Linked DNA regions of Homo sapiens. The protein of the gene in region 1 purifies or fractionates together with the protein of each later gene. This does not show direct contact. Each region holds a gene or a part of one and is shown in the gene's direction. Other genes may lie near its edges.

Region 1 (4,401 bases):
TACCCTATCTCCATTTTCTAACAATAAAAGTTGATGCATTGTAAATATGTAAGCAGCAGTGGGTTGCCCCCCGCTCCTCCACCGCACTGCTGCAGGGAATAAATCTATGATAGAGCCAAAAGAATTGCCCAGGTGTCTCCTAATCTAAGCCTTCAGATCTCTCTTTATGATCATTCCAAAAAATATGCCTGTCTTGGTAGTTTGCTGTGTTCCTCTTCTCATAGAGACAGTGTTCAGTTTCACTAATGAGTAGCAAACAATTTGCAGGAAAGCACCTGATTGATGAATGGAGAGCCACTTCCTTAGGCTGTGCCCATTCTTAATGGCAACTGAATCCAATTAGTTGTTCAACCAAATATTTACTGAACTCCTATTAGAAGCAAGAGACTCTTGAGGGATTCAAAGATCCATAGGATATTGTTCCTGCCTGCCTTCAAGTAGCTTACTACCAAGGCTGTCTCCATTTTGTGAAAACTTTCCCTAAAAGCTATTTCATTTAATACTTTGAGACTAAACACTATTATTATTCGGTATGGATATAGACATGGTCACCTTGATTTATTTTGTTAATAATGTTTTGCTCCTTATCTATATTATTTTAAAATGTACCCGGGTACAGTGGGTCGTGCTTATAATTCCAGCGACTCAAGAGACTGAGGCAAGAGGATCTTGAGGCCAGGAATTCAAAACCAGACTGGGCAACATAGCACCTTGTCTCTAAAAAAAATTTTTTTTAATTAGCCAGGCATAGTGGCATGGTCCTGTAGTCCCAGCTATTCAGGAGTCTAGGGTAGTAAGATTGCTTGAGCCCAGGAGTTCAAGGCTGCAGTGAGCTGTGATTGCACCACTGCACTCCAGCCTGGGCCACAGAGTGAGACCACGTCTCTAAAAAAATAATAACAATAAATATATATTTTAAATAAAATGTAACTCTTCCTTGGTTAGGCATGGTGGCTTGCACCTGTAATCCCAGCAATTTGGTGGAGACTAAAGCAGAATTGCTTGAGCCCAGGAGTTCAAGACCACCTGGGCAATATAGTGAAGACTCATCTCTAAAAAAAATTTAAAAATTAGCTGGGCATGGTGGCTCATGCCTGTAATCCTAGCACTTTGGGGGGCCAAGGCTGGCAGATCACTTGAGGTCAGGAGTTCGAGACCAGCGTGGCCAATATGGTGAAACCCCGTCTCTACTAAAAATACAAAAACTGGCCAGGTGTAGTGGCATGTGCTGGTAATCCCAGCTACTCAGGAAGCTGAGGCAGGAGAATCACTTGAACCAGGGAGGCAGAGGTTGCAGTGAGCCGAGATCGCGCCATTGCACTCAAGTCTGGGCAAAGCAAGACTCCATCTCAAAAAAAAAAAAAATTAACCAGGCATGATGGCACATGCCTGTAGTCCTAGTTCCTCAGGAGGCTGAGGCAAGAAGATCATTTGAACTGGGGAGGTCAAAGCTTCAGTAAGCTGCGATCATGCATGCCACTGCACTCCAGCCTGAGTGACATGGTGAAATTCCATCTCTGCAAAAAATACGAAAATTAGCCAGGTGTGATGGCATGTGCCTGTAGTCCCAGCTACTCAGGAGGCTGAGGCAGGAGGATCACTTGAGCCCAGGTGGTGGAGGTTGCAGTGGGCCAAGCTTGTGCCACTGCACTCCAGCCTAGGCAATAAAATGAGACGCTGTCTCAAAAGAAATAAAAAAAGTAAGCTCTACCACAATGCCTGGCAGGGACATATAAATTTACACAAAAAATAGCAATTTTATTATTGTCACTGCTATACACAATATTACATGTATATTATGACCAGTGCAGATGAAATTATACCTGCCTCTCATGTAATCTGGACATTATGCTCATAGTATTGTGCTCATGATGCTCATAGGCTTTCTAGAGAAGATAAACCCTTCATCTAGGTTTGGAGGGAAGAAAAAGCCATGGATTGGTTGGAGAGGATAGGAGAGGATACCTCTAATAGAAGGGAAAACAGTAGGCATTATACTAATTATAGTCCAAGATTGTGGTTGCCTAAATTCCTAAGTCATTTTTGACTCATCAAGTGAGGTTATTGACTATAAATAGGTTTTTGAGTCCAAATAGAAATTTACATTTATCCCTGATATATGTAATCATCTTGACTCAATCCTTTTTTTTTTTTTTTTTTTTGAGATGGAGTCTCACTCTGTCACCCAGAATGGAGTGCAGTAGCACAATCTCAGCTCACTGCAGCCTCCGCCTCCGAGGTTCAAGCTATTCTCCTGCCTCAGCCTCCCAGGTAGCTGGGATTACAGGCACCTGCCACCATGCCAGGCTAAGTTTTGAATTTTTAGTAGAGACAGGGTTTCACCATGTTGGCCAGGCTGGTCTCGAACTCCTGACCTCAGGTGATCTGCCTACCTCAGCCTCCCAAAGTGCTGGGATTACAGGCATGAGCCACCGCACCAGGCCTCAATCCTCTCTTTCTAATCTGTGGAGGCTGTTTTGAATTCACTGACTCTTTTGTTCACTGAACGCTTACTACATGCCGCATAGTTCTAGGACGTGGAACTATAGCAGTGAACAAAACAGACAAAGTTGCTGTTTTATTAAGCTTGTCTAGTGATCAAAGAAAGATAATAAATATATGTCAGGATAATAAGCTCCATGAAGAAAATTAAGGAAGGGTGATGGGGACATTATCTTACTTGGGGCAGACAGGAAATATTTCCCTCATCCAGTGAGGTTCGGGGCTCACGATAAGTGAAGCAGTGAGCTGCACAGATGCCTGATACAAGAATGCTTTAGGCCGGGCGCGGTGGCTCATGCCTGTAATCCCAGCACTTTGGGAGGCCGAGGCAATTGGATCACTTGCGGTTAGGAGTTCGAGACCAGCCTGACCAACGTGGAGAAACCCTGTCTCTACTAAAAATACAAAAATTAGCCGGACATGGTGGCGCATGCCTGTAATCCCAGCTACTCGGGAGGCTGAGGCAGGAGAATTGCTTGAACTCTGGAGGCGGAGGTTGCGGTGAGCCGTGATCGTGCCATTGTACTTTAGCCTGGGCAACAAGAGCAAAACTCTGTCTCAAAAAAAAAAAAAAAGAATATTCCAGAAAGAATCGGGGAAATGCTGGAATTATGTCTATTTCCTTTTCTTTTTTTTCCTCGCTCTGTTGCCCAGGCTGGAGTGCAGTGGCACGATTTTAACTCACTGCAACCTCCACCTCCTGGGCTCAAGTGATCCTCTTACCTTGGCCTCCCAAATAGCTGGGACTACAGGCATGTGCCACCATGCCCTGCTAATTTTTGTAATTTTTTTGTGTAGAGATGGGGTTTTGCCATGTTGCCCAGGCTACATTTATTTCCTTAGTTCTCCCTCCCTTCCAAGTGGTCCCCTAAAAAGTAAAGTGGAAAAAACTATAGGCCTAATCTGGACCTTTAAAGCCTAAACCCAATTTAGCCTCAATGAACTTGAGGGAGCGAAGAAACTTGAGGGTCCAATTTTTGTGGGAAAAGATAAGACTAGGGTAAGGGAAACAAAAAAAAAATCTATTTCTCTTTCTCTTTTTTTTTTCTTTTTTTTTTTTTTGAGATGGGGTCTCGGTCTTTTGCCCAGGCTGGAGTGCAGTGGCACGATCTCAGCTCACTATAACCTCCACCTCCCGGCTTCAAGTGATTCTCCTGCCTCAGCCTCCTGAGTAGCTGGGATTACAGGTGTGTGTCACCACACCTGGCTAATTTTTGTATTTTATTTTAGCAGAGACAGGGTTTCGCCATGTTGGCCAGGCTGGTTTTGAACTCCTGACCTCAGGTAATCTGCCTGCCTCAGCCTCCCAAAGTGCTGGGATAACAGGCGTGAGCCGCCACACCCGGCCTATTTCTGTTTAGTTATTTGTTCATCCAACACATAGTGCCTGCTATGTGTTTTAAGTGCTGAGGGTACAGCCGTGAACAAAACAGACATAAATTTTTGTCCTCATGAGACTTATATTCTAGTGAAGATAAATAATAAATTGTAAAATAATATGCGTGTGGGTGTTTATTCTTACATATTTGTGTATGTATTTTATATATTTTTTTCTTACATGTGTAGGGGTGTGTGTATCAGAGAGCGAGAATGACGGCATGTTGAAAAAAATTAAGCAAGGCTAGGAAGAGTGGGTGGTGAGGATGGAGAAGATTGCACTTTTAAATAGGTGAGTCAGGAAAGGCCTAAGAAGGTGACATTTGAGCAGAGATCTGACATTTTCCACTAATAGGGAAGAAAACCCCTATTTCTTCCAGTGAAGGATTTATTAAGGTAATAATAATGAAAAGAGAAAGTCTCTATTTCTTCCTATTTAGAATAATATATGTATACATAAATACATATATATACACACACACATATATACATATATACACACACATATACATATATACACAT
Region 2 (4,401 bases), on another chromosome or scaffold:
TTCTTAACTCTGTAAAACTCTAGAGAGGGGTTGGCTCTCTGATCTGAAATGCTCTAGAAGGAGAAATGCTGTGGGTCTGGGAGCGATTCCAAGCAAGCCGTCCTCCGTCCTCTTGGTAAGCAGGGTGTGGGGTAGAAAGGTTAGGGCTGGGGCCTCCTACAGCCTCCACATGGCCACAGCCATCAATCTGCCTGACCCCAGCAGACTCTGGCAGCCCAGGGGTCTCCACGCTTGGTTGCCAGAAGGGTATGTGGGGGCCCCCAAAGGGCTGATGATGCAGCCATGTGTGTGTCCCTGTCCCTGCCAGACTGACCCCTTCTGGACAGCCAGCTCCCTGTCACCCTCCGACCACAGAGAGGCCCAGAACCAGTCCATCTGCAGCCTGGCAGAGCTCCTGGAGCTGGCCAAGGGCAATGCCACACTGCTGCTCAACCTGCGTGACCCGCCCCGGGAGCACCCCTACCGCAGCAGTTTTATCAACGTGACTCTGGAGGCCGTGCTGCACTCCGGCTTCCCCCAGCACCAGGTGAGGCCCTGCAACGCAGCTCTGCCCCCGGGAGCCCTGGCCTGGCTAGAGCCCTGCTGCTGCATAGCCTTTCCCTGTTGCACTCCGGACTTCAGCTTTCCCATTTGTAAAATGGGGATCACACACTGCTCACTTCCCTGGCAGGGTCATCATGGGACAAGAGGGGAACAAGAAAACACTTTAAAATGTATAAAGGTCCAGGCGGTCAAGTTATTTCAGTGAAGTGTTGCCCTGTCGTTTGGTGTAATAATCTGGGACCAGAGAAATCTGACATCAGTTTAGGACGGCACACTAGGTGCTAGTGGCCATGTGCAGAGTAGTGGCTGTTTGGGTTTTCCCTCCCGTACTGACAGCAGGCCAGAAGCGAAGTTTCCTGAGTTGCTGCCAGTGCACTTTGCAGCCTTGGCTGGGACTGAGTCCTGCCCTGCTAATGACTTCATCTAAGCTTTCACCGCCTGCCAGGTCCTGTCTCTTAACCCCACAGGTGCTCTAGGAGGAGTAGGTACTCTTACGCATCGTGCAGAAGAGAAGTCTGAGGCTGCCTCTCTTCTGCCTGCAGGTCATGTGGCTGCCTAGCAGGCAGAGGCCCCTGGTGCGGAAGGTGGCTCCCGGCTTCCAACAGACATCAGGCTCCAAGGAGGCAGTCGCCAGCCTGCGGAGAGGCCACATCCAGCGGCTGAACCTGCGCTACACTCAGGTGTCCCGCCAGGAGCTCAGGTGCCTGCCCTGCCCTGGGCTCCTCCAGGAGAGGGTGGGACTGAGTCTCTCCCAGTCCTGCCACCACCACCCCCCAACACACACACACACACACACACACACGGTCGGGCAGAGGGATGGGCACACAGAGGAATCAGGCACACATGGTTCAAAGACAAGAGGGTGAGCGTGTCGGGCAGACCCGGGCTTGTCCCGGAGCTTGGCCCTCTGGAGCCAATGTTCCTTGCCCCGGGCATGGCTGTGAGGTCGTGAACAGGACGTGCTTTACCAGCCCCGACACTGGGCCTGGAGCTGCCAGGGTCCGCATGCTGACCTGCCTCTCCCCTGCCCCACAGGGACTACGCGTCCTGGAACCTGAGTGTGAACCTCTACACAGTCAACGCACCGTGGCTCTTCTCCCTGCTGTGGTGTGCGGGGGTCCCATCCGTCACCTCTGACAACTCCCACGCCCTGTCCCAGGTGCCTTCCCCCCTCTGGATCATGGTGAGTTGGGGGGCAGAGGGCCCCTGGGGGGCAGTGCTGGAGCTGCCTATAGCCTGCCCTGACCACTCGGCAAGCTCTGTGCTTGGAGCTGTCCCTGGGAGGTCTCTAGCATGGTGGGGAGTCCATGGTGGGCGTGCAGGCTTGAGGCATGAGGGTTTCATGGCATCTGGGATCTGCACTAAGGTGCTGGGAGGACCCTGGGCCTCATCCACAGGGAGAAAAGCATCACTAAGGGCTCTAAAGAAGTAAAGAGCTGCTTGGGTTTCTTTGCTTTGGAGGGTAACAAGGACAGGAATAGGAAGCATTGACCGGGCGTGGGGCTCACGCCTATAATCCCAGCATTTTGGGAAGCAGAGGCAGGATGATCACTGGAGCCCAGGGGTACAAGACTAACCTGGGCAACCCTGTCTCTACAAAAAAAAATAATAATAATTAATTAATTTGCTGGCCAAGGTGGCACACGCCTGTAGTCCTAGCTACTCGGTAGGCTGAAGTGGGAGGATTGCTTGAGCCCAGCAGGTCAAAGCTGCAGTGAGCTGTGATCACTCCAGCCTGGATGACAAAGTGAGATCCTGTCTCAAAAAATAAAAATAAAAAAGAATAGGAAACAATTAAAATCTGCTCAGAGAACAGCAAATAAAGCAATATTTTAGCTGGTTGACTGGGCACCTGCAGATAGGTGGTGGCTCCACTGTCACCCTGAGCATGCAGAAGGCAGGTGGAGGGTATCCTTATGGCTGAGAGAATGCAGTGCCAATGAATCAGACCTAAGCTGTGGATGGTTCTATGGGAGAGGAGGGTGAAGGGAAGGCAGCCTGGGGAAAGGGTCGAGACCGATGGATGAGAGTCGGCAGCGGGGGGCGGCAAAGCCATTGTCTTTCAGTATCTGGCTCCTGCTTTGAGGACCCTAGACACACAGACCCTGCAGGCCTAGCACACAACCCCTCTGCCCTGAGCACCATACAGTCCCCTCCTACCCTGAGAGTGCACACGTGTGCACACACACGCCCCGGCCCCCAGGCCCACAGCGCCTGGAGCCTACACCTGCAAAATGTCATCTTCAGCCCCCAGACCCTCTCAGGGTCCTCCCTTGCCCTTCCCCAGTGGCCATGTGGGGTCCTTTGGTCCACGGACCCTCAGTCTGGAGCCTCAGTCTGGACTGGCCATGACTGGAAGTTGGCCTCGGGCCGTCTGTCCACAGCCCCCGGACGAGTACTGTCTCATGTGGGTCACTGCCGACCTGGTCTCCTTCACCCTCATCGTGGGCATCTTCGTGCTCCAGAAGTGAGTAGGATCTGACCACTTCCGTGGCTGTCCCTACCCTGCAGCAGGCCCAGCCCCCACCCCAGCCAGGTGAACCCTCTCCTGAGCCCTGGGCCTCAGCCAGGAGCAGGCCTGACCAGGGAAGAAGGACGGACTCCGGTGGCCCCATCCTCCCTCAGACAGAGGCTGGGTGACTTCTGGAATGAACATGCAGCTGGGATCCCAGAGCCAAGCTCTGCCTTGGGTGGCTATGTGGGCTTAGGTGAATTTCAGCTCCTCACCGGGCTGGCCTGCTCATCTGTTAGCCAGGGCATGGGTTCCCACCAGCCCTCAGCAAGATAGCTGGGGTGTGCTCGCAGTGGGGAGGTGTGGTTGGTCCCAGGGAGGGTCTAGGGCCAGCCTGGGGCCCCCACCCAGCCAGGAACCAAGGGGCTGGGATTTTATTCTTGACTGATGTTCTCTCTCTGTCCCATCCTGCTCTGATCGGCGCATGTCCCTCCTCTCTCCCCCTCCCCCTCTCTCTGCTGCACTCTGGCATCTCACAGCTATCACTTGATCAGGTAATTCTGGTGTGGTCTTCCTCCTCCTTCTGTTCCTCTTTCTCCCTCTTGCCATCCCTTCTCCAGTTCTGTCTAAAAACCCACCGTGCACCAAGCCCTGTGCCCGGGCCACCTCGCAGACAGCGCGCTCGCCTGAAGCCTCCCTTACCCCCGCAATCCTCTTTTCTGCTCCTCCCGTCCCACTGCCGTGTGTGTCCCTCTGCTCCCTGTTCCCACGGCCGTTTCTGCAGGTGGGGACCAGCGTTTCCTTGACAGCTTCCTGACCTGGCCCCTCTCTGCACCAAAGTGTCTCCCTGGGGGAGGGGACCCTGCCTGGGTACCCCCATCCCCCTGCCTCTGGCACTTACAGGGGCCTTCACCACTTGCCCAGGGCAGACCCTACCAAGTTTCTGCCTCTCTCTTCCCATCTTCTCCCTCCCTGGCTCTGCCTCTCCCACTGTTCACTCTTCCTGTTTACCTTTCTCTGCCTCTCCCATCTCTTTCTCTCTCTTCTTTACATTCTATCTCTAACACCCATCCCTGCTTTGCTCCCCGCAACACACAGCCTTTTCCTCATTCCCCTCAGAGGACCCCACAGTGGCTGAGCTTCCTGTTCTGGATATGCCTGGCCGAGAGACCCTGGCCTGACACTGTCCTTCTGGGTTTCAACATGAATTTCCAGGATGGGACCTAGAGCTTAGGGACCCACGTCTCCCTCCGTCTAGTGCCTTAGCCCCTCCTGGGTCAGGCAGCTTCACCAATCAGCTTCTAGGAGGAGATGCTGTCCCTGGCTATGGGACATTCCTTGAGTCATTCCTGTGTCCGCCCAGTTGACCAACATCCACATACACTGGTTGCTGATGCTGTCTGCAG
Region 3 (4,401 bases), on another chromosome or scaffold:
GTAAGTGGTTCTCAAAAAAAGGTGCTTTCAATTCAAGTTTACATAGCAAATTCAACTAAGAGCAATAAATTTCTAGAGAAGTGACATGGCAAAGGAAAAGGACTTTGAGTCTCTGGTGGCAGCAACTTGTGAGAAGGCAAATAAATGGGAGATAAAGACCAGTTGGTAAAGCTTGTTCATATAGTTTCCTCTGGGATCATCTCCACATAATAAGAATCTGAAGTTATCTTCACTGATCAACCTTTGTTCTCACTGGGAAAAGGTGGGCAGGATGACTTTTGTCTTTGTGAATCTGTGTTTTGCTTTTAGGCAGATAGAGGGAGGGCGGAGAACTTTCCTGAATCTGCTTCTTCTTAAATTGCCTTCACTCAATAATCCTTCATATTTTGGGGGGTGGCATCTTCTGGTTTCCCTCAGTATTAGTCTACTCATCCTGCTCTCAGAGTAATTCTCAGGTCCTTCTTAGCCTGTAGGAGGAGGACTTGCAGGGAGGGGAAATCTGTACCTTTTTTTTTTTCTTTTTTTTGATACAAGGTCTTACTCTGTCACCCAGGGTGGAGCATGATCTCAGCTCACTGCATCCTACACCTCCTGGGCTCAAGCCATCCTACTGCTTCAGCCTCCTGAGTAGCTGGTACTACAGGCACACACCACCATGCCTGGCCAATTTTTGTATTTTTTGTAGAGACAAGGTTTTGTCATGTTGCTTAGGCTAGTCTTGAACTTCTGGGCTCAAGCCATCTGCCTGCCTCAGCCTCCCAAAGTGCTGGGATGACAGGTGTGAGCCAGCTATATTGTGGTTTTGCTTCATAATCCATACCCATTGTTTAATCAGTAAAATTGATTGATTATGGAAACAACAGCCTGTCTACAGAGCATCTTGAGCGTATATGTGGTTCAGCAGGTAGAATCTGTAACTGAGCAGATAGAAAGTAGTATCTGGATTTTTTGTTTGTTTGTTTGTTTTTTTGAGACAGTCTCGCTCTATAGCCTAGGCTCGAATGCTCAGGCATGATCATGGCTCACTACAGCCTTGATCTCCCTGGCTCAAGCAATCCTCTTACCTCAGCCTCCAGAGTAGCTAGGACTACAGGCATGCCACCATGCCCAGGTTTTTGTTTTTGTTTTAATTTTTATTATTTGTAGAGACAGAGTCTTACTCTGTTGCCCAGGTGGAATTCTTTATGATCATAATGACTCTTCACTCCAGGGTTTCCCTTTAGTTGTGGTATTTGTATAATCTTTGGTTTGATTGTGAATTTCTATGTAATCTAGCAGCTGTTTTTTGCTATGTCACACCTGCATGCACCTGAGTCTGTGTTCATGGAGTTGGGCATGAGTAGTGTGTTGTGTGAAGGAGGTCAAACATTACTGAGGTGGGTGGCTTAAGGTAGTATATACCAAGTTATGTTTCCTAATTTGAAGATAATCATGCAGGAAAATTTATTATAGGGAAGAGGATGATATGGTGCGGTGAAAAAATGGGGAATTAGGAATCAAAAGGTTTGAGTTCCCACTGCACTGCTGACTTGCTTTCTGATCCTAACAAGTTTCTAACTCCTCCAAGCCTCCATTCATCAGATGATATACAGAAACGCTCTTTCAGGGGGTTGCAAGGATCTAATTAGAGGCTATTGAAGACTCTTTGTACACTGTAAAATGCTATTCAGATATTATTTATTTTAATAAACAGTGATTGCTTTATGTCAGGCTCTTTAACAAAAATTCTTACAATTCAGACCTCCTATCAACACTGCAAAGCAGGCATTATTATCGCCATTAGTCAATAAGGCACCTGGCATACAGAGAGTAACTAAGTAACTTGCTCACCTACTACTTTTAAGTGATGATTCCCAATTTAAGTTCCAGCTGCTTTTTTGCTATGTTGTCGTGCTGTTAATAAAGGATAAATGGTAGAGGTTTGAACTTTAACAACAACTTGGATTATGCTTCTAAAAAAATGGAAGTGGTGCTCTAGACTAGGAGTCAGGAGGTTCAGACTGTTACTATATTTTTCTATTATTTTGGGGTAAGTTACTTAAATTAATTTCATTAAATACGTTTAAAACACTTGGCTATGTTTCTGCTAAGGTTTACATGTAAAATGCTTTCTTATTTTAATCATTTTCAGAATTTAAAAAATTTCCTTCGAAGGGATCAAAAGTATTTTATGAATCTGTTTTAATATTTTTTTTTCTTTTTTTAAAGTCATTCCTACACTGGCCAAGATTACAGTACCCAGGGAAATGTTGGGAAGATTTCTTTAGATCAGATTGATTTGGTAAGTAGAACATTATTTTAAACTTAGAACTTTATCAATGGAGGGAACATAGATTTTCTTAAATCAAAGACTTTTGGGTGAGGAGATAGAATATTATTTCACTGCTTGCTGATTAATTTTAAAGAAAATCCCATGTCCCACTTAGATGATTTTAAAAAAAATCATAAGAAAATCATTTAATCAGAAAATTATCTGTACTTTTATGAAAACAGAATTTAATCAACTATTCCAAACAGGAATTCTTTTAAATAGCTAAATGGAGTTTGTGTTTACATTTAAATAGTGTATACATTTAATAAAGGGGAAATGGAAAACACTAAGTGTATTAGTTTGTTAGGGTTGTCATGACAACGGAAATTTATTTTCTCACAGTCTAGAGGCTCGAAATCCAAGATCAAAGGGATAGTAGGTTTGATTTCTTCCAGGGCCTTTCTTGTCTCACAGATAGCTGCCTTCTCCTTGTGTTCTCCTGTGGTTTTCCCACTGCTTGCATACATCCCTGGTGTCTCTTCTTTTTGTAAGGACACTGAGTATGTGAGACCAGGGCCCCACCCCCATGGCCTCCTTTAATCTTAATGAGTTCTTTAAAGGCCCCATCTCTAAATATAGTCACATTTGGAGCTACTAGAGGTCAGGACTTGATATATGAATTTCAGGGGGAGAGGACAATTCATCATCCAGTGTAGGCTACGAGATTAATAGATAGCTTATTTTAGCATCATTTGACTTTGTGGTTCCATAGGGTAGCGTACTTTGCCATACTTGTAGAATTTCTCTTTAATACATAACAGCATTTGCACTCCATACACAAAGGGAAAATAAGCCAGCCATAAATAATCTTGGGTTAGACAACTACCAAATTATTCACAATAAATTAAAAATACACAGGGATTTTAATGCTTGGAAACAAGAACTGTAATAAGACTAGTAGAGAAAGAACGTGAGTTTGGATCAGAATGAATAGGTCGTCTTCCATTTGAAAAATTATAAAAAAGTACTTGCAGTTAATATGTCTAGAAATAACAGTAGGGTTGCCTACTTTACACAGTTGATTTGTTGATTTGAAATTTGTTCTCAAAGATGTCCCATCTTTTAATTTTTTTATTAAACACTTATCTCTAACAGTCCACTTTCTCACTTCCACTCATGTGATTTGTGCTTATATAATGTGAATGGTTGGAGGTTAATTCTGTTCTTAGTTCTAGCTAGATGTTTCCCTATTCACAAGCAAATGTGAATTTCATTGGATACTGTTGGAGTTCATAGAAATATTAATTCATTTAATGGATATGTATTGAGCCCATCAGTTATGTAGCAGCCATTGTGCTGTGGATACAGAAGTGAGGAAAACAGAAAATGTCCCTGCCTTCATGGACCTTACATGAGGGAGAGGGACAACATAATAAATAATAAATGAGCAATATAATGTTAAGTGCTATGATGATGATCCTGTCATGGGTCTGTGCCTGAGACCCCGTGGTGAGTAATACAGATGTATCTTTTTCTGGACTGCCTCCTAACTCTGTATCTATATTGTTTGATCTTCACAACAGCATGTCATTTGCATATCCCTTGGTATTTGCAACTCTTCTCCAAATGTTTTCTTTAGTTTTTTCTTCTAACAAATCTGGCTTTCTCAATGCTGTTTCCGCTGTGGGCCTCTTCAAGTAGAGACAACTTTCCCCCCGAGTTCATATATAGGTATGCGGTGAGTGTCTTTCTTGGTCCGCATTTCTCTGCCTTCCATTGTTACAGCTCCAGCTCCTTTAAAGCCCTTGTGATCTTATTATATCATCTGATACCTCCTTTGTTGCTATTCGACCCCCTCCCCCCACACCTGTATTCGTTGATGATTTGAACACCTAGCTAATGGTCTTGTGTACTGGCGCTATTGTTGTTATTGTTCTTGGCCTCTGCAAGATCCAAGTTGATAATTTATCCCCTATCCTGGACTTATGATTCTTTTGTTTGCTTGTTTTCCATGATCATTTTTCTATCTGTATATAGCCAGACACTATCTTTTTAATTTTTATTATTTGGACTACTGCCCACACCTCTTAAGTATCCCTCCTGCTTCCATTCTTACTCTCATATAGTCTTTTCACTACATAACAGCCAGA
Region 4 (4,401 bases), on another chromosome or scaffold:
TTTGACATTCTCATAGGAACATTTTGAAATTTTGTGAGCGGACTAAAAATCTAATTTCAAGCCAAGCCTTGTAATTTTGTTGAGTGGACATGGATTTTAAGTACAGTGGAAGTGCAGTCTTGTAGAGACCTCTGATTAGTTTTGTTTAAACAGCTCCTGGAACAGATGTGATAAAACATATTAAAATGGCTACTCTGGTTAAAGGTTAAAGCCAGATGGAGGGAGGAGGCTGGTTTTCAGCCCTAGAACTTAGCTGCCTTACAAGTTGTCCTTGAACAAGTAACTTAACCTTTCTGTGACTGCCTCAGTTTTCCCTCTGTAAAAATAAGGAAATATTTTGTGTCACTCTTATTGGGACATTTGTGAGACTGACTTACTGATAGCCAGTTGGCGGGGAGGTATTTTTAGACACAGTTTCTGACTTCAGTGAATAAGCAATGCTGGGTTACTTTTTTATCTTAAGGAGCAGAAAAACATACTCTGTGATTGATAGACGTACAGCATGTCACAGTGTGGTTTTCTTTTTGTGCTTTTTTGTAGACCCCTTTCAGATTTCCTCAAGTTAATTTCTGTCTCTGGCAGGCTCTTACATCGTCGACTAGGCAGCATACCTGTGCTAATCAAAGACAGTCTGGAGGGAGTGACCTGCTTTAGGCTTTATTGGTTTGGCAACGTTTTAATTCTTACGCAACTCTGGGTATGTTTATGGCACTATGTAAATGTTACATAAGAACATGGAGGCTGAGAAGTGGCCAGAATGGTGACTGTGAACACAGGAAGGTTAGACTGAGGACTTTATCCAAAAGGACCTTGGGAATCTGCAATCAGTACAGGAAGAACCTGCACTTATTTTCCTCTAAGAACCTTTTTAGATGATTATGTCTTTCAGGTGGACTGCTGTGTTATAAATAGGTTTATTCTCCACCGGTGAGCTAATTGTAACCTTGCTACCAAAATATGAATCAGTAAACGATGAGACGTGCTGCTTCTTCCAGCATGTCCTGTTGAAGCTGCTTGTTGCATTTTGGAACATGAGTTGAATTGGGTTGCAGTCTGTTCTCATAATAGCTGAGGAGCACAGGGTGTTGAGGTGGAATGGAATTATCAGTTCGTGGTGCTTTAGGTCATCTTAATTTTTGAAGGTTAAATTAGAATACTGAAGTGGCTCTTTATAATTTTGAAATCTCTATTGTTTACTGTTCAATTTTTGCTCAGAGTAGCAGTGAACATTAATTCTGGGATCTCGCCTGTTTGTCTTCAGTTCTTGTGTTAGCTGTTGTTGTAGGAGTTGGTGTAAGAGGGTCTTAATCTCATTTTCCTCTCTGTATTCATAAAAAGGGAATCCTAGAGTCCTTTCTCACCAGTGCTTCTGATGCTGGACATAACTGCAGGCAGCCACAGCCCATCAGTTCCACTTGGACTGGGAATGCGGGAACCTTTTAAGTCCAACTTACATTTCTCTCACTCTGCAGGCACTGCCTCATGGCCAGGTTCAGATACCTGCTCTGAGTTTCTGTTCTCAGTTTTTCACTCTCATGCAGGTTTAACTTGAGCTTTGGCTTCAGAGGCACCATTTCTGTCCATGTCTGCTCTCTCTCCTCTGTTATGGAGAAATGGTGTGCTAAGCAAAAATATGATTTCAGAGAGTATCTTTCTTTCCTTTACTCTGTAGAGTTGCCATACTTTGGTTTAGCTGTGAAGTTTCCATCCCAGGCAATCTTTATCTGCTCTCTAGGGTTCAGAGACAGTGCCACTTTAGGCAACTCTGGGCTTTTTGGTTTTCTTTAGTGTCCACCCAGTCTTAAGCCTGCATTTGTCTCCCTAAATATTTTGAATTTAGCATAATGAAAGTAACTGCCTTTCCCTTTAAACCATAACATCACACCTAATATTTACACAGTTAACATATAGGAGATTTCTTTATTCATTGGATTGGGTATGTGCCTGGAACAGTTTTTGGCATGGGGAAATAACAGAGAACAAGATGAACAAAAGTCCCTAAATCTCTATTATGGAACTTATAATTGCAATGGCTTAGACTGAAAATAAATAAGTAAACACAATTATCAGTCCATGAGTGCTGTGAAGAAAATAAAACAGGATGCTGTGCCATAGTGTGCCTGGAGCTGCCACTTCACCTCTCTATCAGCTTCATTGTTTTATCTGTAAAATGGGGCTAATACAGTCTTGTTATTTGTGGTAGTTCCATAAAGTTGAATTGTAGAACTGAATTACCAAATCTTCAACCATTGCTCCTAGGGGAAATACAGGGCTAGGTTCCTGCGAGCCTCTGGTCACTTTTTCAACCTGTCAATACATAACCTTATTTTATGTGTTTCTTTTTTTTTCTTTTTTTGAGACAGGGTCTTGCTCTGTTGCCCAGGTTAGAGTCCAGTGACATGATCTCACTCACTGCAGTTTCTGCCTCCCAGGCTCAAGCAATCCTCCCACCTCAGCCTCCTGAGTAGCTGAGACCTCAGGTGTACACCACCACACCTGGCTAATTTTTGTATTTATTTACTTTTTGGTAGAGACAGGGTTTCGACATGTTGCCCAGGCTGGTCTTGAACTCCTGGGCTCAAGCAATCCACTCACCTGGGCTTCACCTGCTGAGATTACGGGTATGAGCCACTGAACCTGGCCTGTTTCATGTGTTTCTGTTTATTTTTATTTTTAATTTTTATTTTTTTGAGACAGTGTCCTGCTCTGTCACCCAGGCTGTATAGTACGAGAGTGTATCATAGGCCAGGCACAGTGGCTCACGCCTGTAATGCCAGCACTTTGGGAGGCCGAGGCAGGTGGATCATGAGGTCAGGAGTTCGAGACCAGCCTGACAAACATGCTGAAACCCCGTCTCTATTAAAAATACAAAAATTAGCCAGGTGTGGTGGTGTGCCTGTAATCCCAGCTACTCAGGAGGCTGAGGCAGGAGAATCACTTGAACCTGGGAGGCAGAGGTTGCAGTGAGCGGAGACTGCGCCACTGCACTCCAGCCTAGGCAACGGAGTGAGACTCCGTCAAAAAAAAAAAAAAAAAAAGCCAAAAACATCATAGCTCACTGCAGCCTGAAACTCCTGGGCTCAAGGAATCCTCCTTTGTCAGCCTCCCAAGTGGCTAGGATCACACGCACATGCCACCATACCCGGCTAATGTTTAAATTTTTTGTAGAGATGGGGTCTCACTTGTTGCCCAGGCTGGTCTCAAATTCCTGGGCTCAAATTATCCTCCTGCCTTGGCCTCCCAAAGGGCTGGGATTACAGGCCTGAGCTACCATGCCTGGCTTTGTTTCTGTTTAAAGACACCTTATTTAATATATATTGTTGGTTCATTAACATTGAACTTTACTGACAGCAGCACTATTAACTCATGCCTGAACTAAGCTTCTCTAACATGTATTTTCTCTGTGAGGCATATCACTATCTTCTTGCACTTAGGAACTCTAGACAGCACTTCAGCACTACTTGTGGGGGACCATTTTATACAGCAAAATCATCAATGAAAAGCATGACACTAAATATACTGCAGAAAGGATAACTTGTTTACAGTATGCCAGCTGAAACAAGAAGGCAGGGTGTTGCCTTGTTTGACCTCAGTTGGGAATGCATGTGGTGGGTGTTTCAGATGTTTCACTATTCTGTGCATGGCTGTCAGTGAGCAGGAAGGTACCATGAATGTTGATATTGGGGTTACAAATAAATTTGCATTAACCATATTTTGTTAGAACTGTATACAAAAGTGGTAGAAATAAAATTGTAGAATTTCACTAAACCAGAATTTTAATACATGTAGTTAGAAGTCCCATTTCCAGACTGCAAACTAAACATATGCATGTTGAGTACCTACCATGGTGATCTAGGGCAGTGGTCCCCAATCTTTTTGACATCAGGGACTGGTTTCGTGGAAGATAATTTTCCCACAGGGGAAGTAGGGGAGATATGATTTTGGGATGAAACTGTTCCACCTCAGATCATCAAGCACATCAGGCCGAGGTGGGTGGATCACCTGAGGTTGGGAGTTCAAGACCAGCCTGGCCAACATGGTGAAACCCCATCTCTACTGAAAATAAAAAATTAGCCGGGCATGGTAGTGGCAGCGCATGCCTGTAATCTCAGCTACTCAGGAGGCTGAGGCAGGAGAATAGCTTGAATCCGGGAGGCGGAGGTTGCAGTCAGCCGAGATCACGCCACTGCACTCCAGCCTGGGGAACAGAGTGAGACTCCTCAAAAAAAAAAAAAAAGAAAAGAAAGATCATCAGGCACATCAAGCATGTTAGATTCTCATAAGGTGCATGCAAGCTAGATGCCTCGCATGCGCGGTTCACCGTAGGTTTCCCACTCCTATGAGAATCTAATGCCGCCGCTGATGTGACAGGAGGCAGAGCTCAGGTACCCGCCTGCCACT
Region 5 (4,401 bases), on another chromosome or scaffold:
CTCTGGCTCACAGCCCAGCCACACCCTGGCTCATAGGCCCACCTCCTGCAGCCCTGCCCCCAGGCCCAGATCCCTGTCCCTGCTCACAGACCTTTGGTGGTGATAATCTGTATGTCCCCGCTCCTCCATTGGACCTGGGCTGCCGAGGGGTTCGGGTGGGCAACTCCTTAGTAATTGACCCCCATCCCGGCCCCCTCAGAAAGATCTGCCAGCATTGCAAATGCCCGCGGGAGGAGCATGCAGTGCACGCGGTGCCTGTGGACCTGGAACGCATCATGTGTCGGCTAATCTCGGACTTCCAGCGCCACTCCATCTCCGACGACGACTCAGGCTGTGCATCGGAGGAGTATGCCTGGGTGCCCCCAGGCCTTAAGCCGGAGCAGGTGACCAGAGGCCAGCCCTCCACTCTTGCTGTCCAGTGGGTGCACACTAATGCTCACACACACACACACACACTCAGGTGGGAACCTATTTCTGGGGCTACGCTAGAGTGTGCAGTCAGACCGAGGGTCCTTCTGGCCCCTCTGTGATGGAAGAGTGGTCAGCCCCCCATACCTTGGGTGACTGAGGGACCAGTTCCTCAGGGCCTGTTCACCCCAATCCTATTATTTTTGATTGATTGTTTTTGAGACAGGGTCTCACTCTGTTGCCCACCACAGCCTCCCTTGTAGCTGGGACTGCAGGTGCATGCCACCCTGCCTGGCTATTTTTAAAATTTTTTTGTAGAGACAGGGTCTCCCTATGTTGCCCAGGCTGATGTTGAACTCCTGGGCTCAAGTGATCCTGCCTCGGCCTCCCAAAGTGCTGGGATTACAAGAGCAAGCCACCATGCGTGGCCCCACTCCCTATTCTACCCTCCCAGCACTTCATTCACCACATGACTTCATTGATTGACTCATTCAACACATAGTTATGGGGCACCTACTGCATGTGAGACACTGTTCTAGGCACTGAGGACACAGCAATGAGCAAAACACAAAATAACATATCTGCCCACGGGCACGGTGGCTCACGCCTGTAATCCCAGCACTTCGGGAGGCTGAGGCGGGCGGATTACTTGAGGTCAGGAGTTTGAGACCAACCTGGCCAACATGGCAAAACCCCGTCTCTACTAAAAGTACAAAAATTAGCCAGGTGTGGTGGTGCACACCTGTAATCCTAGCTACTCAGGAGGCTGAGGCAGGAGAATTGTTTGAACCCAGGAAGCGGAGGTTGCAGTGAGCTGAGATCGTGCCACTGCACTCCAGCCTGGGCAACAGAGTGATACTTCTCAAAAAAAAAAAAAAAAAAATCTGCCCAGGCAGAGGGTAGATTCTGGAAAGGAGGAACACCCAATAAGCAAACCTGTAAATATATGTCAGATGGTGTAAGGGCTATGGAATTAAAAAGCAAGGAAGGTGGGGTGAAGAAAGAGAGAGGGAAGGAGAGAGATGCTAGAATTGTAAATAGGGTGCCCAGAATAAGCCTCTGTGAGAATTTAATGGTTGAGCTGCCCGAAAGGAGGTGAGAAGTGAGCCATGCAGACATCTAAGGTTACAGCGATTCACACAGGCAAAGGGCATGGCTAATGCCAAGGCCCTGAGGCAGGCGTGTGCTTGGCATATGTAAGGGATGGCAAGGCCAGTGCTGCTGGCGCAGAGTGAGCAAGGGGGAGACCAGCTGGAGATGAGGTCAGAGATGTGGCAGGGGCTATGGAGAGGACTTTGGCTTTGCCTGTGAATGAAGGGAAGTCGCAAGAGGGTTGTCAGCAGAAGACAGCCTGGAGGAATAAGGGTGGAATCAGGAGACCAGTGAGGAACCTGATGATGATGGCACTGGCAGTGCAAGGAGTTATATATATATGGAGAGAGAGACAGACAGACAGACAGAAAGGCCGGCATGGTGGCTCACACCTGTAATCCCAGCACTTTGGGAGGCCGAGGCGAGTGGATCACTTGAGGTCAGGAGTTTGAGACCAGCCTGGCCAACATAGTGAAACCCCATCTCTACTAAAAATACAAAAATTAGTCTGGCATGGTGGCAAATGTCTGTAATCCCAGCTACTCGGGAGGCTGAGCCACAAGAATTCCTTGAACCCAGGAGGCAGAGGTTGCAGTGAGCTGAGATTGCACCACTGCACTCCAGCCTGGGCGACAGAGCAAGACCCTGTCTCAAAAAAAAAAAAAATAGGCTGGGTGCAGTGGTTCACGCCTGTAATCCCACCACTTTGGGAAGCCTAGGCAGGCAGATCGCCTGAGGTCGGGAGTTTGAGACCAGCCTGACCAACATGGAGAAACCCCGTCTCTACTAAAAATACAAAAAAATTAGCCAGGCGTGGTGGCACATGCCTGTAATCCCAGCTACTTGGAAGGCTGAAGCAGGAGAAGCGCTTGAACCCGGGAGGCGGAGGTTTCGGTGAGCCCAGATCATGCCATTGCACTGCAGCCTGGGCAACAAGAGCAAAATTCCGTTTAATAAATAATTATTTAATATATATATATGTGTGTGTATATATATATACACATATATATATACGTATATAGATACACGCGTATATATATACGTATATATACGTGTATATATATACACATATACGTATATATATACACATATATACGTATATATACACATATATATACACATATGTATACATCTATATACATATATATAAAATAATTATTTTACGTATATAATTTACGTAAATAATATACGTATAATAATTATACGTGTATATATATATATATATATACACACACACATATATATATATGGGGGGGGGTCTCACTCTGTCTCCCAGGTTTGAGTGCAGTGGCTCAATCACAGCTCACTGCAGCCTCAACTTCCTGAGCTCAAGTGATCCTCCCACCTCAGCCTCCCAAGTAGCTGGGACTACAGGCACGCATCATCACGCCTGGATGATTTTTGTATTTTTTGTAGAGATGGGGTTTTGCCATGTTGCCCAGGGTGGTCTTGGACTCCTGGGCTCAAGCTATCTTCCCCTCTGGGCCTCCTAAAGTGCTGGGATTACAGGTGTGATCCACAGCACCCAGCCTATATTTTGGAAGTAGCACTCAGAGGATTTGCTTGTGGGGGTGGGAGAAAGAGGAGTGAAAGATGACCCTGAGGATAGGTAGATTAACTGATGTGGGAGAGGCCAAGACAGGAGCAGTTTGAGGGGTAAGAGCATAAGTTTGGTTGTGGCCATCTGGAGTTTGAGATGCCTGTTAGACATCTAAATAGCCACATTGCCTGGAACTCAAGGGATAAGTTACAGAGCTGGACGTATGTGTTTGTCATTATGTGTCACAGGCTGGAGGTGACACATTAGCCAGCCAAGTAGATGATATTTACAGCCATAAGGTTGAATGTAATTCCCAAGAAATTGAATGTAGACAGAGGCAAGAGGACCAAGAGCTGAGTCCTAGGATCCTCCTGCATTTAGGGGTCAGCTAGTTGAGGAGGAGCCAAAACAGGGACAAAGAAGGAGCAGCCAATAAGGTGGAAGGAAAACCTGGACTGTGTGGTGTCCTGGAAGCCAAGGGAAGAAAGTGTTTCCAGGAAGAGAGAGTGGTCAGCTCGGTGCAGTGCTACCATCATCAAGTCTGATGACGACTGAGACCTGAACAATGATTTTAACAATGGGGAAGTCATGGATGACCTTGACAGCTTTGGAAGAGGGATGGGAGCGGAAGCCTGCCTCAAGTAGGCTCAAGAGAGATTGGAAGGACAGGAAGTGGAGTGAACACAAGTGCTCATAACTTTTTGAGGAATTTTCCTGTAAAGGGAAAAAGAAAAGTGGATCAGTAGACTGGGCGCGGTGGCTCACACCTGTAATCCCAGCACTTTGGGAGGCCAAGGCAGGCGGATCACTTGAGGTCAGGAGTTCGAGACCAGCCTGGCCAACATGGTGAAACCCTGTCTCTACTAAAAATAAAAAATTAGCTGGGCATAGTGGTATGCCTGTAATCCCAGCTACTCAGGAGGCTGAGGCAGGAGAATCGCTTGAACCCAGGAGGCGGAGGTTGCAGTGAGCCTAGATCGCGCCACTCCAGCTTGGGCAACAGAGAAAGATTCCGTCTCAAAAAAAAAAAAAAAAAAAAAAGGTGATCAGCAGCTGGAGGAGGAAGTGAGGTCAATACATGCAGGAACCCTCAGCGTGTTTGGGAGCTGGGAGCTGAGGGAAATGATCCGCCTTTAGGAAGGAGAGATGAGGGAGTCAGAAGGTCCCTCCTAATGCCTTTCATTTTCTGAGAAATGGGGACCCGCCATCTCACTGCATCCCAACTCACCTCTCATTTCAGTTGTTTTCTCCCACTCCTATGTCCTCCCAGGTATATCAATTTTTCAGCTGCCTCCCAGAGGACAAGGTCCCCTACGTCAACAGTCCTGGGGAGAAATACAGGATCAAGCAGCTGCTGCACC
Region 6 (3,500 bases), on another chromosome or scaffold:
TATTTCTCCCACTTTTAGCACAGACTGGCCACTCAGCTCTCCTAGCCCAATGGATGCACCATCAGTTAAAATACGCAGAATGGATCCTTTCGCTACAAAAGAACATATTGAAATCATAGCTCCTTCACCACAAAGAAGCAGGTCTTTTTCAGTAGGGATTTCCTGTGACCAGACAAGTTCATCTGAGAGCCAGTTCTCACCACTGGAATTCTCAGGAATGGACCATGAGGACATCAGTGAGTCAGTGGATGCAGCATACAACCTCCAGGACAGTTGCCTTACAGACTGTGATGTGGAAGATGGGACTATGGATGGCAATGATGAGGGGCACTCCTTTGAACTTTGTCCTTCTGAAGCTTCTCCTTATGTAAGGTCAAGGGAGAGAACCTCCTCTTCAATAGTATTTGAAGATTCTGGCTGTGATAATGCTTCCAGTAAAGAAGAGCCGAAAACTAATCGATTGCATATTGGCAACCATTGTGCTAATAAACTAACTGCTTTCAAGCCCACCAGTAGCAAATCTTCTTCTGAAGCTACATTGTCTATTTCTCCTCCAAGACCAACCACTTTAAGTTTAGATCTCACTAAAAACACCACAGAAAAACTCCAGCCCAGTTCACCAAAGGTGTATCTTTACATTCAAATGCAGCTGTGCAGAAAAGAAAACCTCAAAGACTGGATGAATGGACGATGTACCATAGAGGAGAGAGAGAGGAGCGTGTGTCTGCACATCTTCCTGCAGATCGCAGAGGCAGTGGAGTTTCTTCACAGTAAAGGACTGATGCACAGGGACCTCAAGGTCTGTATTTGTGGAGCATCACCCTTGGGGTTTCAATCTGACGTTTTGTGATTCAGAGCAGTACTTGCAGTACTCTGAAGGATCCTTAAGAGTTGGGGAGAGTAAAAGCATCTGAGAGCAGAGGTCTGAGAAAGTAGCCTCGAAGGGGCCTGCTGCAAGAATAAGAAGTCTTATGTCTGAAAACTTTAGGCAAACCATGCATTCATTGTCTTCAGTAATGTGTTTGTGTTCATTTTACTGTAAAAGGTATTCTCAGTAGTCCAGGTGAGGGAAAAAAAAGAAAAAAGAATCTTTAGGTAAAATCCACCATGAGCAGATATAGCCTGTTTTTTTGTTTGTTTGTTTGTTTTTGTTTTTCTATGGTTTTGAGTAACCCTGACACCAATACCTCCAGGGCTCTGAAGCAGCATGGTGAAAGGGATCCGAATGGAAGGAGAGACATGGGTTCCTTCATTAGCCAGCTTGAATTGGGGCAAATCTCCACACTTTTGCTTCTTTTTCTGAACTGTTTAGACTTTGGGGGAAGGGGTAAGAAGCCGAATGGGGAAAGGTAGCAAATAGTTAACAGATGACTGTTTACAGCTCTAAAACCTTGGATTCTATTTTCAATATATTCAGTAGTGAATTTTGCAGTAATATAATATGCAAAATTATTAAAGAGTCTTACTAAAACATGACATTTCCGTAGTAGTGTTTCTAAAAATAAGTACATGGAACTTTTATTTAACTAATTTCCCACATTCCATATACTCTTAGCCATCACCAGTAGATGTGGAGTGAATGTATAAATACTTTTCTGATGAAAGTAGCTTAAAGTCTTGATAGATGTGGATCCATTTTAAGTCTTTTCAGACTTAAAACAGACTTGTTTCAGGCACAAAAGTAGCTATTTGGACACAAGTTATTTTCTTCTAAAATCAGCAGTAGGTTTTCAAATTCTTGGGTATATTTTAAGAGTTTTAGGGTAACAAGAATAGGAATTAGAAATAATTCTTATTTTTTAATATAATTGTTATTTAGTCATATAAATCATTATGCTTCAGTGATTTTGACGTGGGCCCAAACTGATTGCCAAGAATTGTTCTGCACTGAATGAAAAGTTCAGAGATGAATTATTTGGTTGGATTGGAGAAGACAGTTTACAGGAGACCACACACCCCTAATTTGAGAGAATACTAGCAGTTAGGTTTGAATATAGTAAACGCTTATCACTAGGTGGGAAACAGCTAGCTGAAATACACATTCTTCTTGTACTTAACACTTGCTGTACACACAAATGCCAACTTGAAAGACAATGAATCATGTTTTCACTAATAATGAATATTCTTCTGCTAATTTTATAATGTAAATGAGATATTGGTAAATATCCATTTAATGCTACAATGTTGTCTAAAGATTTTTCTGTAATTGTCTATGCACCAGAAAAATTGCAAGAAGAAAGTTAATATTCCTGTTAGTTTTTCTAGAAATCAGAAAGTTTTATTCCTTTCTAAATAGAAGACAATTCCTTTTAAAGATTTCTAGTGCGCCACCCCCAACCAAAAAAAAAAAAAAAGCCAAGATTTTTGTTCCTGGGTGAAAAAGCTGTACATTTTGCTACGTTCTGACCTAAATCTTTGAGCTCAATGTTAAACCTTCTAGGCCCTCTCCCCCTGTTATATTTTGGTCACATTTTTGTCTTCAGGACTTTGGCTCCTGCCTCTTCAGACTAACTTCTAGTCTTCTATTTTCTCCACTCTGAACTTTTCTCAGTTCCTCTTGATATACACTGTTCTGACAGAAACCTGGTCCTTCTTCATTATTCTCATCACACCTGGATTATTTATTCTGTGGTTTCTATGGGGTATGAACCATATCTGTTTCTTTTACCTGTTATAGTCTCAGTACAATGCCTGAATGTTCTAGATGGTCATACCATTTATTTTGAATTTTATTTTCTTTGCACTCAAAAGTGTTTATACTGACTTAACCAGAAAAGGAAATCTGTTGGCCCACATGGCTAAACTGTTGAGAATTCAGGTAAAGCTTTAGCTGAGATCAAGTGATTTAGCCAGAACCTGGTTTCTGTCCTCCCCATTTCTTGTTTCTATTTAAGTCTTTTGGAGTTGGTGGGGTAGAGGGTGGAGAGAAAAGTATTGCTTTTTCCCACTATCAGAAATTTTATTCTACTTAAACCAAGGACACCTACCCATCCCTCAACAATCCCTAGCCAGGCAATGGGATTCCATGGATTGGCGTAAGCAACTTTTAGAGCATGGATGCCTTCCACACTAACCGTGGGGTTTTGCTGCACAGTCAGCAAGAAGGAAGTTCCCAAAGTAAAGTCAAGATACTTCTGCTGGAAGCACAGGGAGATAGATACTGGAGAGCCAAAAAGCTTGTCTATTATAGGGTTCAGTAAATAACAACTGCCATCAGATGTTGGGAGTTGGGAAGAAAGATGACATTTAATGCAGGATAGTCTATTATTGCCTCTGGTACAAAGTTATTTATTGGAGAGCTGCAGATTATTACCATAGATCTTATACACAATAACTTCATGCTTCCAAGTCAAAATCGTTTAATGGTATTTTAGAGTTTGGGAATGCAATGTTATTTTCTGGCAGTATTTGAAACATGATGAAATTCAATTTCATGAGCTAAATGGCTTCCTTTTTCCTCATTTCAAGGGCTATGAATGGTGGTCATATTACCCGCAGAG
Region 7 (4,925 bases), on another chromosome or scaffold:
TCTTAATCTTATCTAACTGAATTTTAAGTGTTTTCTCTCTGAAGTGTGAGATTTATTTACCCATGATTGCAAACCTTTATCACATGAGATATTGCACTGTATTTCTTTTTCTTCCTCATCTTTACATTACTTCTCTCTGCAGATTTGTTGCTATTGAGACTTTAGGCAATTAGTTTCACCTTCAGGCTCTTTGTTATTCAAATTTTAGTTTTACTTCCTCTTAGAATCATAATACTTCAGAGTAAAGAGAGTCTTCATTTTAGTAGGCTTTGGAAATTGGGAAACAAAGAAGAAAGACTTTTGCATAATGGCATGGCTTGTTAATCACAGGGCATGGGTAGGACATTGTCCCATTGACTTGAAGACCAACACTCAGTAAGCTAAATGTCTTGGAATCACAAATGTATTTCTAAAGGACAGGCAATGTTTGAGGTCTGAGGTGTCTGCTAGAAAGAGTGCATTTAACAAATGTGAGAAATCATTCTCTAACATGCATTTTAACAAATTGCTCTTAAGAAAAACTACACATTGAGAAAAATCTTACAACCTATGTTCACATCATTTTCTACAAAATATTACTTAAAACTTTGCTTTTGAATTTCCTAATTATATAGAATTTTTATTTTCTTAGTTTTCTATGAAAGTGTTATTAAATAAAATGACTTTCTGAAATGTCCATTTTTTTCAATCAAGAGGTTTTTCTATTTCTGTTGTCATATAAAGATGATAGCAGTAAATATCTGTCTCAACATAGAAAGGTCACTCAGTACTTCTCGACAAGTATCTGCTCATGCTTTCCTGCATGGATGATGAAATAAAACCCCATCCTCCACAGTTACTATACTGGTTGTCACTGGAACTACAAATATTTGAACATGGTAATAGAAAAACATAAAAATGCATAGTTAACCCAACTCAAACGCTGTCTGAGATAGTGGAGAGACTTTCTCAAAGTCCTCACAAGTAACAAAGATCTTTATTTCTTCTGCATATGACAGCTAATATAACTTACATAAATCAGTAGGCCTGTTTGGAAAGGTGCATGGAGAACTGGGTTTGTTTCCTTGGTATTCTTATATGCAAATAAGCACGTTTTCCTAAATTTATCCTAATAAGGAGATGAAATCTTGAATCCTACAAAGGTAAGAATTTGAATGTCCTAATTTAATGGACTAAATATAGATAAGAGGTAAATAAAGGACATAGGCTCCCCCGATGACGCATTAAATAAAATTTTTGTAAGGTATTGAGATCTAATAATCATATTGATCTCAGGGATTGTGGAAGTCTTGCTATTCAGAATTAAAGCTGAATTAACGGTCATAAACAACGCTACACAGTTAAACATTAAGGATATGGCAACATTATTAGAAATAAAATTATAACTAAACTTAGGAGAAATAAAAATGGAATTTGATGCAGTCACTGGTTAGGACTCTGAGTGTCGCTGTTGACCAAAGTGGGAAAGAAGCTGCCGCAGAGGCGACCCGACTCTGCTCCCTCCATACTAAACACACAGACCAGACAAGCTCCTACGAAAAGCCAACGCTCCACGCCCATTTTCGTCAGGGAATATGTACCCATCGGCTTTAGATAAATAAGGAAACAGCAGGCTGAACCAGAACTAAGAGAAAATTGGGCAGAGAGAAGGCAATGGCGAGTCCACCTAGGGGCTGGGGCTGCGGAGAGCTGCTGCTGCCCTTCATGCTCCTGGGGACGCTGTGCGAGCCAGGATCCGGGCAGATCCGCTACTCGATGCCGGAGGAGCTGGACAAAGGCTCCTTCGTCGGCAACATAGCCAAGGACCTTGGGCTGGAGCCCCAGGAGCTGGCGGAGCGCGGAGTCCGCATCGTCTCCAGAGGTAGGACGCAGCTTTTTGCCCTGAACCCGCGAAGCGGCAGCTTGGTCACCGCGGGCAGGATAGACCGGGAGGAGCTCTGCGCTCAGAGCCCACTGTGTGTGGTGAACTTTAACATCTTGGTTGAGAACAAAATGAAAATTTATGGAGTAGAAGTAGAAATAATCGATATTAATGATAACTTCCCGCGTTTCCGGGATGAAGAGTTAAAAGTAAAAGTTAATGAAAATGCGGCTGCAGGGACACGGTTAGTGCTTCCCTTCGCGCGGGATGCGGATGTGGGTGTGAACTCTCTCCGGAGTTACCAGCTCAGCTCCAATCTGCACTTCTCTCTGGATGTGGTAAGCGGAACTGATGGACAAAAGTATCCGGAGCTGGTGTTGGAACAGCCCCTAGACCGCGAGAAAGAGACTGTTCACGACCTCCTCCTCACAGCTTTAGATGGCGGAGACCCGGTACTCTCCGGCACCACGCACATCCGTGTTACGGTCCTCGACGCAAACGACAATGCGCCCCTGTTCACCCCATCCGAGTACAGCGTGAGTGTTCCAGAGAACATACCTGTGGGCACTCGGCTGCTCATGCTAACCGCCACGGATCCAGATGAGGGAATAAACGGGAAATTGACCTACTCTTTTCGCAATGAAGAAGAAAAAATTTCGGAGACTTTCCAACTTGATTCCAACCTGGGGGAAATCTCAACTCTACAATCACTGGACTATGAAGAATCCAGATTCTACCTCATGGAAGTGGTAGCTCAGGATGGAGGCGCTCTTGTTGCCAGCGCTAAGGTGGTGGTCACAGTACAGGACGTGAATGACAATGCCCCCGAAGTGATCCTCACCTCTCTGACCAGTTCGATCTCTGAAGACTGTCTTCCCGGAACTGTAATCGCGCTGTTTAGCGTACATGATGGTGATTCTGGAGAAAATGGTGAGATTGCATGCTCTATTCCTAGGAATTTGCCTTTTAAATTGGAGAAGTCAGTTGATAATTACTATCACCTATTAACAACTAGGGACCTGGACAGAGAAGAGACTTCAGATTATAATATCACTTTAACCGTCATGGACCATGGAACCCCGCCCCTCTCTACAGAAAGCCACATCCCCTTGAAAGTAGCAGACGTTAATGACAACCCACCCAATTTCCCTCAAGCCTCCTACTCCACCTCTGTCACAGAAAACAATCCCAGAGGTGTCTCTATCTTCTCTGTGACAGCCCATGACCCCGACAGCGGCGACAACGCTCGAGTCACCTACTCCCTGGCTGAAGACACATTTCAGGGGGCGCCCTTGTCCTCCTATGTATCCATTAACTCTGACACCGGTGTCCTGTATGCTCTGAGATCCTTCGACTATGAGCAGTTGAGAGACCTACAGTTGTGGGTGACAGCCAGCGACAGTGGGAACCCTCCACTTAGCAGCAACGTGTCGCTGAGCCTGTTTGTGCTGGACCAGAACGACAATACGCCTGAGATCCTGTACCCCGCCCTCCCCACAGACGGTTCCACGGGCGTGGAGCTGGCGCCTCGCTCCGCAGAACCTGGCTACCTGGTGACCAAGGTGGTAGCGGTGGACAAAGATTCAGGCCAGAACGCCTGGCTGTCCTACCGCCTGCTTAAGGCCAGCGAGCCAGGACTCTTTGCGGTTGGGCTGCACACGGGCGAGGTGCGCACAGCGCGAGCCCTGCTGGACAGAGACGCGCTCAAGCAGAGCCTCGTGGTGGCCGTCGAAGACCATGGCCAGCCCCCTCTGTCAGCCACCTTCACGGTCACCGTTGCCGTGGCCGACAGGATCCCTGACATCCTGGCTGACCTAGGCAGTATCAAGACCCCCATTGACCCTGAGGATCTGGACCTCACACTCTATCTTGTGGTGGCAGTGGCTGCAGTCTCCTGCGTCTTCCTGGCCTTCGTCATCGTGCTGCTGGTGCTCAGACTGAGGCGCTGGCACAAGTCACGCCTGCTTCAGGCTGAAGGCAGCAGGTTGGCGGGTGTGCCCGCCTCGCACTTTGTGGGCGTGGATGGGGTTCGGGCTTTCCTGCAGACCTATTCCCACGAGGTCTCCCTCACCGCGGACTCGAGGAAGAGTCACCTGATCTTTCCCCAGCCCAACTACGCAGACACGCTCCTTAGTGAAGAGAGCTGTGAGAAAAGCGAGCCTCTTCTGATGTCTGATAAGGTAGATGCAAACAAAGAAGAACGGCGAGTTCAGGTTAGTTTTCTCTTTCGGTAAGGATGACCAGAACATTTTCATTTGTTTCCTTTTTCATGTTTCTGTCATATTCAGAATCAGCTAGTTATGTAAATAGTGGAACATTATTTGCTGTATTGGAGATTAATTTTTTTTATATAATTCATGCTTTCTCCATTTGTTTTCAAATTCTGTTTTGGGAAGTCTAGCTGATATCTGTAGACTTAAGTGAAACAAATACCTTAAAGGAAAGTGGTTAAATATAATCATTTTACCCAAATATTTTGTTATATTGGAACTGCAGTTCTATTAATAGAAAAGATGTTTTATTTATTCAAATTGTTAGATATATTGTTCTCTTTTGAGTGTCTGCCTAGACACCATTAGTGAATGTGTTTTGGAAAGGATAATGTATAGGACTGATATTTTAGTCTACCTGAAATTTGTTTAAGGAAATAATTTACAGTATTTACATAAATCAGTGGAAAGGTACAGAGAACTTCTGGGTCATAAATATCAGAAAAGAGGCCGGGTGCGGTGGCTGACGCCTGTAATCCCAGCACTTTGGGAGGCTGAGGTGGGCGGATCACGAGGTCAGGAGATCGAGACCATCCTGGCTAACACGGTGAAACCCTGTTCTACTAAAAATACAAAAAATTAGCCGGGCGTGGTGGCAGGCGCCTGTAGTCCCAGCTACTCGGAAGGCTGAGGCAGGAGAATGGGGTGAACCCGGGAGGAGGAGCTTGCAGTAAGCCGAGATCGCGCCACTGCACTCCAGCCTGGGAGACAGAACGAGACTCCGTCTCAAAATAAATAAATAAATAAATAAATAAATAAATAAATATCAGAAAAGTAGATAAAATTTATATTAA

Evidence for each region.
Region 2: the proteins of SYT11 (region 1) and GDPD5 purify together in Homo sapiens (co-immunoprecipitation; one large-scale study listed by IntAct). This does not show direct contact.
Region 3: the proteins of SYT11 (region 1) and PRIM2 purify together in Homo sapiens (co-immunoprecipitation; one large-scale study listed by IntAct). This does not show direct contact.
Region 4: the proteins of SYT11 (region 1) and ACVR1B purify together in Homo sapiens (affinity purification with mass spectrometry; one large-scale study listed by BioGRID and IntAct). This does not show direct contact.
Region 5: the proteins of SYT11 (region 1) and PRICKLE3 purify together in Homo sapiens (co-immunoprecipitation; one large-scale study listed by IntAct). This does not show direct contact.
Region 6: the proteins of SYT11 (region 1) and EIF2AK3 purify together in Homo sapiens (co-immunoprecipitation; one large-scale study listed by IntAct). This does not show direct contact.
Region 7: the proteins of SYT11 (region 1) and PCDHGA5 purify together in Homo sapiens (co-immunoprecipitation; one large-scale study listed by IntAct). This does not show direct contact.

The regions. Positions count from the first base shown.
Region 1 is NC_000001.11:155,862,567-155,866,967, forward strand, and holds part of SYT11 (synaptotagmin-11), read left to right. Parts: intron 1-4,401. UniProt on the Homo sapiens protein: Synaptotagmin family member involved in vesicular and membrane trafficking which does not bind Ca(2+). Inhibits clathrin-mediated and bulk endocytosis, functions to ensure precision in vesicle retrieval.
Region 2 is NC_000011.10:75,438,488-75,442,888, reverse strand, and holds part of GDPD5 (glycerophosphodiester phosphodiesterase domain-containing protein 5), read left to right. Parts: intron 1-307; coding exon 308-526; intron 527-1,085; coding exon 1,086-1,243; intron 1,244-1,578; coding exon 1,579-1,726; intron 1,727-2,927; coding exon 2,928-3,010; intron 3,011-4,401. UniProt on the Homo sapiens protein: Glycerophosphodiester phosphodiesterase that promotes neurite formation and drives spinal motor neuron differentiation.
Region 3 is NC_000006.12:57,530,203-57,534,603, forward strand, and holds part of PRIM2 (DNA primase large subunit), read left to right. Parts: intron 1-2,208; coding exon 2,209-2,281; intron 2,282-4,401. UniProt on the Homo sapiens protein: Regulatory subunit of the DNA primase complex and component of the DNA polymerase alpha complex (also known as the alpha DNA polymerase-primase complex) which play an essential role in the initiation of DNA synthesis.
Region 4 is NC_000012.12:51,954,423-51,958,823, forward strand, and holds part of ACVR1B (activin receptor type-1B isoform a precursor), read left to right. Parts: intron 1-4,401. UniProt on the Homo sapiens protein: Transmembrane serine/threonine kinase activin type-1 receptor forming an activin receptor complex with activin receptor type-2 (ACVR2A or ACVR2B).
Region 5 is NC_000023.11:49,179,716-49,184,116, reverse strand, and holds part of PRICKLE3 (prickle planar cell polarity protein 3), read left to right. Parts: intron 1-199; coding exon 200-383; intron 384-4,310; coding exon 4,311-4,401. UniProt on the Homo sapiens protein: Involved in the planar cell polarity (PCP) pathway that is essential for the polarization of epithelial cells during morphogenetic processes, including gastrulation and neurulation.
Region 6 is NC_000002.12:88,571,965-88,575,464, reverse strand, and holds part of EIF2AK3 (eukaryotic translation initiation factor 2-alpha kinase 3 isoform 1 precursor), read left to right. Parts: exon of another isoform or gene 1-18; coding exon 19-799; exon of another isoform or gene 800-951; intron 952-3,500. UniProt on the Homo sapiens protein: Metabolic-stress sensing protein kinase that phosphorylates the alpha subunit of eukaryotic translation initiation factor 2 (EIF2S1/eIF-2-alpha) in response to various stress, such as unfolded protein response (UPR).
Region 7 is NC_000005.10:141,362,678-141,367,602, forward strand, and holds the start of PCDHGA5 (protocadherin gamma-A5 isoform 1 precursor), read left to right. Parts: upstream 1-1,484; 5' UTR 1,485-1,653; coding exon 1,654-4,074; coding exon of another isoform or gene 4,075-4,095; exon of another isoform or gene 4,096-4,925. UniProt on the Homo sapiens protein: Potential calcium-dependent cell-adhesion protein. May be involved in the establishment and maintenance of specific neuronal connections in the brain.